Linked DNA regions of Homo sapiens: region 1 is linked to region 2. The links come from fine-mapping of genetic effects on gene expression. A gene starts in region 2. The other region holds a variant in brackets. All regions are shown on one strand. Distances are between the middles of the regions.

Region 1 (5,000 bases), 240 kb before region 2:
CTGAGGTGTTTGTTAAAATGCAGATTCAGAATAGCTGAATGCCCAAGAATCTGCACTTCTTAAGCATCACAGGTGATTCTGCTGCAAGTGGTCTGCAGACCAAACTGAGAAACATTGTTCTTCTACATCAGTGATTCTCAGTTCTGCCTGCATATCAATATCATCTAGGGAGCTTCAGTCAAAACACGTCAACACAAAAAGACAAAAAACCTTGCCTAGGCTTCAAGACCAATTAAATCATAACCCTGGGGGTTGGGACTAAGCAGCAGCACTTTATAAAACTCTCAAGGTGCAGACAGGGTTGCAAGTTTGGTCCTGCATCATGAGTGTTCCTCAGAGACAGGGACCATAAGAAGTTATTGGACAGTGTGAGGGAATTGAATGCTCAGTGATGGGTAATGGCTTGTACTCAGGAAACTTCATCTCCTTCACAGTGTTGCTGAAGGCTGGCTCTGTCTGCAGAAATGAAAATCTGCTCCCTAGGTTTTATAAAACATTGCCACATCATCCTTAGGATAATTCTGCTGTGTGGCAGAGCTCCATCCTAGTTACGCTATGTTCTCCCATGCCCAGAAAAACTCACAGGAAGAGAACCCACTCTGTCATAAAGTCAAGAATAGGCGTAGGAGCCTGGCATATCTCCAGGCTCTGTGGGAAGAGGGTAGTTCTGGGCTGAGAGCCGGCAAATCAAGCTCTTCTCTGTCTGTACCAGCATTTCACCACTTTAAAGCAAATTTAAATTCCTGTGTCCCAAGGTAACCTTTTTCTGGCCTCTGGAAAACTCAGTTGTTTTAGATGCTACACTCTGAATAATTTTGGCAGGTATTTTGATAAATATTTATTATTGGTTAACTATAACAAACTGACTTGATTTTTTTTAAATCTGTAGTTCCTGTTCGTCCCTGGATTCCTGAGACAACCCGTATTTATTTCCTGAACATGATCACTTTTAGCTTTTTGAATTTGAAAATCTGCTTTGCAGTAGATTTTTCTAACAGTTACACTATCTCAGGATTTCATCTGGGAACATTTCTCTTTTAATCAGAAGTAAAAACATCTGGATGAGTCAGAAAAGAATGTGGCACACTTCTGAATGCTAAAAGTATACAGGGTGTTTTGATTATGCATTTAGACCTTTCAGAGTCTTTCTTCATTGTTGCCACATACATTTAATTTATTCTGAACTGATCTGACTCTAGAAATAATTTTGCTATATAAAAGATTAACATTCCAAAGAAACATCCATAGTAATAGAGGAAGAAAAATGATAACAATTATAGCTAATACTTATTGAGCACTTCTTGTGTGCCAGACTCTGTTCTAATTGCTTTACCTGTGCCAACTATTTTAATTCTCTATCCCTATGGTTAGGTACTATTTTAAAGATAAGCAAACAGAGGTATTTTACAGATAAAGAAACTGAGGCACAGAGAGGCAGAATAGAAAATAAAACATTTAAACTTATACACTAGGAGAGAAATACCCACATTTTTGTAGTATAAAATACCCGTATTTTGTATAAGAAAATCCAAAATGGTGTGCAAGTTATAGAAGGTACAAATTTTCTCCAAACACTGAGAAATATAGTGGCATGAAAACCAAACATATTTGTATAATTATTGTTTATTATCTGTTGTTCATTTGGGACAGAACTGTGACTGTCATTTTTATTTGGAATGATGAGGTTTTGCCAGACCAAGGAGAAAACTGACTTTGGAGTAATTCCAGAATCACAGTTTGATATGGAAAGAGGTATATTTTGCTGCTGTGAATACTAATGGTAGTTTATGCATTGTCTACTTGACAATGTGGAGAAAAATACAGTAATTTATGGAAATTACACTGTGCCATTGTATTGAGGCTAATGGACTGTGGCTGTGTCAGTCTGATCTAAAATCAAGCCTGCACATCATAATCTGGTTATTTTGGCCACTTTAGTACTGACTCAGATCATCATGTGGTTGATCTGAATGACTCAGCTGTTGGTTGTTGACATGACTGAAAATAAATCTAAATGCAAAATGGTCATTTTCATGGCCTCTTGTCTACATGGTTATTGACTTTGGCAATTTTGTGGTTAATGTCATGATATACCTATGATCATGGAGAATTTGGGTGATTACCCACATAAAAATG[C/G]TATAACAGTACCTGCATACCTCAGCAGAGATAGAAAAGGAGCTTCAGTGGAATCAGTGTGGAATGCACAAGCTTGCATTCAACATTCTCGCCTCAAAACAGTAGTAGCTTAGACAAAAGATTTGATGGAATTTCCACCACTTTATTCCCTTGTTTAGCATAAGCGCCTCAATCCTTTCACTGAGAAAAAGTGCAGTGGAACCTACAGGGAAGAAGCTCCATAGGCATTTTTACATTTACCTTTTCTCATTAGGGAAACTATAGCCACTTAAACTCACATTTCACATGGAGGTTATATAAAAAGTGACTGATGGGTCAATCCCATCACATTTTATAAAGGATCTATTAAAATAAGACAAGACTTTATAGTTGAGTTAAAAAGACCTGTCATTTTCCAGTATCTTTCCCTCCATTAATGCAGCTACAAAATGTTTAACATTCATTTCAAATAGTTTTGTTGCACAAGACAGATTTCAAGGTTAGCGTAATGAAATGGCTGTAAAATGCTGCACATTTAGTGTTTATAAAAGTGCATTATAAGAAGCGTATCATACCTTTTGAGGAAATGTAAGAGGAGGCGTGAAGTTAATGAAAGTAAATTAGCAACAAGAGGAAAACAGACATATAAAAAGCACTGCAAAATACGTACATCAAATAATATACAATGCTCTTGTTATCTGTAATAATAAAGAACTAGATTTTCTGAGTTAATAATAAAATATATTTTATGACCTTTGAAATGATAATAAAAGTGAGCTATGTGCTATAACCTTCATCTTGTAAGTAAATTTTATAATCTTCACTTTACTAGCTTTACAAGATGAAGAGCTGGGACTGAAAACTGCTTCTCTATTGTACAAACTCTTTATCATTCCTTTTTTTCTCTTCTTTCTTCCAAAGTATGCATCATTTCTATACTCCATTTAATGCCATGTCTGTGGCAGATTTTTAAAAAATGTGCAGAATCAATCTTTGGTTCTTACAGTCTTCTCTGATGGGAATAAGTAACCATGTCCCAAAGACTGAAAACTACAGCTTTTAGCCAGAAAAGCCATGAAGTAGTTGTAATAAAAATTCTGCTATTACCTCATTAATTTATTATTACATCACTACTACTTTGAAGTGAATTTGCAGTAAGATAAAGACAGTGGTCATACATCAGCAGAGGAAAGGGTATGCTTAAAATATAGCCAAAAATCCTATTGTCTTTGATCTCATTTATTTTATACCCTTCATGTCTTTTATTATTCTGCACATACTTTACATTTTAAAGGAGGATCTACGTGTCAACTAATCTGGACAGACCCCCTGCCCTCTTCAACAAAGTACTTCATATCTTGAAAACTTAACAGGAGAGTAACACCTTTGGAAACATCTATACACAGTAATCAGGTTCAAGTTCATCTGTTCTTTCCATTTTCTCTGTAATAATTCCCCCAACTCTCATGTCTTCAATTTGTCTAGCCCTCAGATGTCCCTGCAGCTGCACAGAAAGTCAGCAGGGGGAGCATTTGTCTGGAAGGACTTGGACTCTGGACTGCTTAGTGGTTCTATCCAAGTTTTACAAAGGAAATAAATTTCGTATTAAAAATAAAGTTACAACTTCCAGCCAATATCAGTAAGACATAGTAGAATAATACAATAAAAATATTTGCAAGAGTTGTAATCTTTAACAAAAGCAAGTTCAAGAAGGAGTGTTGCTGGTTATTTCTCATCAGAGGTCAGCTCTTTGATACTAACTGGTATTTCAACTGTATTCCCAAGGAGTTTTAGGAACTAAAATGCAAATGTTATATTAGCTGTTAGTATTTGTGAAACTAGCATGATTATGTGCAGCCAATTTAATAATGACAATAGCTATTATTTATTGAGAACTTACATGCTAGGCACTGTGCTTTTTATTTCACAGATGAAGAACTGAGGCTTAGCAAGGTTTAGTGATTTGCCCCAGGTTACACAACTGCTAAGCAGATTGTGAATCTAGTGAGGCTAACTCCAGTGCCCACGTGCTTAACCACTATGCTTCTTCCATCTGCCTGTACCCATTGCCTGTCTTCTCCTTCCCCACTCAGGGGGAAAAAGGTTGAATTGAATCTCCTCGTACCTTCCACCGACTCCTCCTAATAAATCAGTTTGTATGTGGACAAAACCTCAGGTTATTATATTGATTACCTTCTCTAGAGTTAGCTCAGCCTCCAGCTTCATGTAGAACAAACTTATTCACTCTGAACAATTATGGTAGTTCAAACCTAATATTGACATAGACTCTTTAAGCTTCTAGGTAGCTGTGAATAATTTGGTGGAAATGTAATGATGCCATCAGTTTTTCTCATGATGTCTTGTTTCTGATTTCCCAGTCTCTTACTTTGAGCATACACACTCTCGATAATATTTTAAATGCTCACTGCCTTCTTTCATTGCAAACCAGAAAAAAGGTAGAGTTTCTTTAGAGGTTGAAAGAATGGAAAACAGCTCTTATGCCTGAGCATGAGGAGAGGAATGGAACAAACAGTGCAACTTCAGGTTGGTAGTAGGAGGCAGTGTGCAGTAGTGGAAATAATCATACTGTTGCCTCTGAAAACCTCCATGACCTTGGATTTCATCACATCATCCTTCGGGTGCTGTTCCCTTGTCTGTGATATTGGAAAAAGCAGCATGAAGTGGAAAGAGCATGTTTTGGAATTGGAGCTTGGTTTGTACTCAGGCTCTGCCATTAGCTGTGTGGCTGGGCAAATTATTTAATCTGACTATCACCTTCTTCAACTTAAAAATAAGTATAATGCCCACGCTGCAGTGGTGTTTTGAGGATTAAAATCCACCTGATAATGGAGGTAAAGTGCCTATACACAGTGGGAGCTGAGGGA
Region 2 (5,501 bases):
CTTTTTTTTTCCCCAGTTAAAAAAAAAAGAGAGAGAGTGTTGGAGAAGGAACACACTAGGTTAGCATGGAGGAAAATGAAACTTTTGCATCAAACACTATTTGGAGCAGACTTTTGCCCACTGTCTTGAGTTTTTCCCACTGTCTTAAGCCCCTCAGCAGTATCATTTGGAGTTGATTTATGCAACATGAAACCGGATGGATTAGAGCCCCTAAAATATCTACTGAAGCAATCATCTCCCAGCACATACACAGACCCTAAGTGCCACAAGAAAGATGCAAATGAGGTCCCCAACGTCCCAAAGGGAGGAAAAGCAGATCTACTTACAAGCATTTGTCACGGAAAAACTATTGGAGGAATCCAAGTGATCTACGTGGTAATTCAAATGGAAGGGCTTCTCGGTGGTGTTCTGGTTGGTGTTGTATAACTGCACGGCAAAGCGGAAAGCGCTGTGCTCCTGCACTGTGTTTCTCATGAAAAGTCCACCTATAAGCAAAGGGAACGGAGATTTGGCTTGTGTTCCCCCACACTAGGGCCAGTTAGGAATTGGGGAACAATATAGATACCGGATACCTCTCAATGATACTGGGGTGTGGGATTGAGGATTGATATTCAACCTGTGTGTCTTTCAAGACTTGTGAACTCAGATTTTGGCCAAGAGAAACCTGGCTTTTCTAGACTGAAAAGAAGAGGCTAGAGAGAAGGGAGAAGAGACGAGGGAGCCGTTTTGGGTTAGGACGATGGAACCAAGAGTGAGACTTGGTTCTTTCTTAGTCGGCAGCCTTCTTTTTTTTTAGTCGCCCCCCCCCTCCGCCCCCCGCCCATCCGCACAGCTGGTCATCTTTTCATTGTGTGAAGGGAAAGGTTGGGAAGAAAAACAATATTGTTCCCCCTGCTACCCCAACCCGTTCCCCATAGCCACCCTCCCCCGTGACAATACAGGGGGTTGGTTCAGTAATGGCAAAAATTCTAACTTCTAGACTTGTAAATACGACAGAAGCCAAGATAACTCCCTCCAGGCGCCCAGGAGCCGGGCTCCAGACAGACACAGCGGCAATTCATGAATTCGTGGTCTGCGTGACTTCGCCGCTTGCCCGCTCAGCTCCTAGTCTCACCCCCGCCTCCTACCCCATCCACCACCAACGCCTGCTGCTGCCCGGGTCTGGGAGATCCAAAGTGGGCTCCACCTCCCCCAGCACCAGCCTGTCTCCCGACAGCCGGAGACCACGGACTGAGCACCCCGGGCCCGGGTTATGCGCCCTGGCGCGGCCAGACAGTCGGCATCACCCTGGGACAACTTCCAGGAGCTGCACGCACGCCATGGCAAAGTCCAGAGCAGCGAGCCGAAAAGCCTCGACTCTTCACCCCCTTGCAGCATCCCAGCCTCCTGCTCGCCTCCGGTGCTCCTCTCGGCTCGGAAAACCTAGCAGTTCACCCCCACTAGCCCCAGGAGACCCCTCTCTTGTCCCAGAGGCTCTTCAGACCAGCCACCTCGTTGAGGCTCAGATTCCCCCCGCCCCGCCCCCCGCCCCGCACCATCTCTGCCCGGTCCCGGCCCCAGTCCCAGTTCCCAGGCCACGCAGGACAGGGACCCACCGCAGGGAAAGCCTTGCCGGGGCAGTGGTCTCGGGTGAGGGAGAGCCTGGACCGACGGCTGGCTCGCTTGCGCTTACCTATGCTGATGGTGTTGGGGAATCCTCCGTGAGAATGACCCAAAAGCCCCAGGACTAAAAAGAAGACCGCCCGGAGCACGCTTTGCCCCATTTTCTTCTGCCTGGCCATGCTACGCCTAAAACGAAGCTGACAAGAGCATGGGCGCAACTCAGGAGTCGTCAAAATAATAATAGAAAAAGAAAAAGAATTCGCTGGCTCTTACACCCCCTCCCCTTAACTTGCTCTCGCTCACTCTTCCTTTCCACCCCACACTAGTCCTCCTCCTCCTCCGCTGCCGCCGCCTCCTCTTCTTCCTCTTCTTCTCTCTCCCTCTTACTCTCTCTCTTATTCGCTCGCTCTCTCTCGCTCGCTCTCTCTTCCTTTCTTGCTCCCTCTCTCTCCCTCTCGCTCCCAGGATCTCTCACACCCCCTCCCTTCCCCCCACCTCACTTCTGTCTTCACACCAATCTGGAAGGCGGGTTCATTGGCTGCAAGCTGGGTTTGCCAAAGCGATTTCTGTCCCTATGATAGAGAGAGAGAGAGAGAGAGAGAGAGAGAGAGAGAGAGAGAATAAAATCCTAAAACAGAACAAAACAAGCAAAACACTGAAAAACAAAAATAGAGAAGCAAAAGAAAGAGAACGAAAGAATAAATTATCAAGACAATCTGAGACTCTCTCCGCGCCCCCCCCCCCCCGCAAAAGATGGTAGGTCTAAAGAGGGGGGGAAAAAAAGGAAAGAGCGAAAAGGCTCAGTGCCGGTGAATTGGGCTCTTCCAATTGGGCCAGTAGGGGGATATTGATCAAAGTTGATCTGACGTGGAATTAAAGCCGCACACCGCTTAGCTCTACTGCAAACTGCAGCCCCGGACTGCAAAGCCTAGGCGCTGGCGTTTGTCAACACCGGAGATGGGATCAATAGAAATACACCACTCCTAACGTGGATCAACCTTTCAAGCTGCAACGTCCTCCCACCCTTTAAAAAAAAATAGCTGCATTGCCTCTGTGTTTGTGTGTCTGTCTTAAAGAAGGGGGGCCTTAGGAGGGCCATTAGTGGTTACTCCGGAGTCTTTGTAGAGACTCAGAGAAGCAGTTCCCATCACAATGCGCCCGAAGATGCTGCGCATGCCCGGTCTCTGCCGCTCCGCTTTTACAGCAGAGATCCGAGGGCGAGTGAGCAACCCCCACCCCCATCCCCGCAGCTTTGGGAGGCGTGTCCCTCCCCTTAAACTAGTGCTGAGGCCGGCTTGCGGGGGCATGGGGTGGGCGGTGCTGAGCAGTGATGGGCAGTATGGGGCTGACTTCTTTGGAGGGCATAGGAAAAAGTATGTGCGTAGAGGTAGTAACTAAAAGGTTAATGAAAAGGACGCTCAGGCTCACTGACCAAGGAGGAGGGAGGTGTGGGAATGAGCTGGTCTGGGGGTGGGGATTGAAAGTTGAGGCTGGAGAAAACTGTACCTAGCTGCATTGATCCCTTGGTGTTGCCTCTGGACTTAGCAGCCTAGGCCCCTGACTGATGACCTCAGAGGTTATCAATTCTTTCTGACTCTTCTTCCCCTCTGCTCTAAGGCGAGCAAAGAACCTATGAAGTCCTACAGTACAGACCGGATTTCAGTGACGGTGGCCTTCTCCATAGCATGCTGCGGATGAACCTCCTGGGCTATAGACTCCTCTCCCTAGCCCCTTTCTCCCGCAATGAGGAAAAAGAATCCTCTTTATCTCTCACGTTTTTCACTTTTACTTTACAGTTACTGTAGAAGGCATGGGTTTTATCCTCCCCACACCTGCTATTTTCCTTTTCATATCCTCTCCTCCTGGTCTAAGTGGAACATGAACTCTCCTGCCAGTGTAAAGCGAACTGATATACATCGGGGATAAAATTGGGAATATACAGGGGATAGAAGGACCCTGGAGCCCAGCTAGTATATCAGTTGCTACAGAACTTTGGATTTGGCGAGACGTAGTCTGGAGCCTGGAACAATGGAACAAAATGGCTTCAAACCAGAAAAATTGTCCTAGGCTCTTCCCAAATTTCTATTCATTCTGATAATGCATAATTTCCTCCCACCCACCACTCATAGAAATCTTTTGTCTCCATTTTGATATTTCATGGACAGGAGTGAAGGAGAAACATGAGAGTCTGAGGAGACTCATCTTTTCAGTGGAAGAAGCATTAGGGCAAAGCGGGTAGCAGAGGTAAGGTTGGTCATCCCCTGCCAAATGTAGACAGGGACATAGCATTATTCGGGAACATGGGCTTAGGAGGCATACACGTCCAGGTTCGAGTCTAAGTCCCATCACATACAGGCAGTGTGTGACCTTGAACAACTTTGTTAATCTGAACCCCAGTTCTCTCATCTTCAAAATGGGAATATTAATATCTTTCTTTATAAGGCAGTTGTGAAAATTAAGTAAGATAATTGATATGAAAGCATCTAATTCAGTGCCTGCCTCAGAGAAAAATCAATAAATGTTAATTTCCAAACTCCCTTCCCTCTTTCTCACCTAGTAAAAGTGCCCTCTTGTCCCCCAAGTTTCCTCATGCTGTCATCCTCCTCTCTCCTCATATTCCACATAACTTCAGACTCTGCTATCAAGTCTATGCCAATGTTCCACATTAAAATCTTTCCATTGTGGCTCCTCAAAAGGCCCGGGAGACAATCTTTACTAAGATTCTAATGGCAGGCAATGACAATTTAATATTAAAATGTCACATTTAAAGAACCTTTACTCTGTGCCAGGCACTAGGTGTTTCTCCTTTTTAGATAACACAGTTGCATTTTAATAGGAGCCTTCAATGCCTTGTCCCAAAGGAACAACTTTAATGAGGAGGTTTTAGTTTTGATTTCATGTGAGTGAACAATATATTTTGTACGAGGAGAAAGTGACTTTCAGCATGTCTCACTTCACTCCTGAAAGTAGCCACGTCCCCAGCCATGCTTGGCCAGCTGTAAGAGGAGGTGGAAGAAAAGATCTGTGGCCATCTTCACTGTCATTTGGCTTGAAGAGTGATGAGGGTGGCTCAGTAACTAAAGATGAGAGGCAGAAAAGTATTTTGGTGCCTATGCACTTGAAAACCCTCGAAGTCATGAATGTAAATGCCACCCATCCCTTCCATTGTCATCCTCCCCTGCCCAATACCTTTTTCCCCTCTCTTTTATCTGCTGCCACTCTTTCAATTTTTAGCTGTCAGTGGCAGCTGTTGGCAGAGTTGGACTACTCTCATCTGAGCCAGCAGGGGCACAGTGGTAGACTAAGCATATTGCTGTTGGTTGAAAAGCCTGTATAATACATGCAAATTCTTTAGCAATCGATTCCTCACCCAAAAGAGCAGGGAGACACTTTATAAACTTCAACTTTGATTTTCCAACGAGGGGTTAGAGATTATACTAGCAGCATCATAGCCACCAGAAGTTGCCAACAAAGCCCCAAACCTAGCTCTCCCTCTGTGGTTAAGAGTATCCCTGCTGAATTTAGGATTACCTGCTAGCCTTAGTACCTATGATCTGTACTTTTAAATGAGCTCTATGATATAGTTTAAATAGCAAGAAAATAACCATTGCAGTTTTTATCAAAAAGTAAAAAGTGTACTTCTCTTCATGAGCTTTGTGCTTGTTTCAGGCTTGAGAGGTGCACTTGGATAAGCATAAAGAACTGTTGGCCAGTGGAATTCTAAGAGGTGATCTATACCGTACAGTGAGCCTCATACTTGCCAACTTCATAAAAATCAGGAAAACAACAACAGAAATCATCCTATTTCATTGGAAGGAAACTGCTATACCCTTCGAAGAAAATGAAACCAAGATACTATATCCTTTGCCTAATGGGAGCATAATTTTCTAACCATTTGA

Which allele goes with the higher level. Alleles are on the strand shown, and positions count from the first base shown. SD is a standard deviation of normalised expression in the study named.
For the expression in fibroblasts of the gene that starts at base 2,039 in region 2, allele G in region 1 goes with a lower level than allele C (small effect, 0.09 SD a copy in GTEx).

The links. PIP is the estimated chance that this variant, and not a neighbour inherited with it, causes the effect.
Region 1: its variant is the best candidate, but not a certain one, in a credible set for the expression of GRIA3 in fibroblasts (GTEx, PIP 0.54).

Annotation. Positions count from the first base shown.
Region 1 is chrX:123,421,714-123,426,713 of GRCh38, reverse strand. The region is part of intron 11 of GRIA3 (glutamate ionotropic receptor AMPA type subunit 3); the gene reads right to left. Among named protein-coding and RNA genes, the nearest start is that of GRIA3, 240 kb to the right of the region's middle. RefSeq lists an enhancer at 1,981-2,130. The variant C/G (reference allele first, on the strand shown) is at 2,137.
Region 2 is chrX:123,180,816-123,186,316 of GRCh38, reverse strand. It overlaps GRIA3 (glutamate ionotropic receptor AMPA type subunit 3), which reads right to left and starts at 2,039. Exons shown (of 16, transcript NM_007325.5): 1 at 1,673-2,039; 2 at 327-485. The coding sequence starts at 1,781.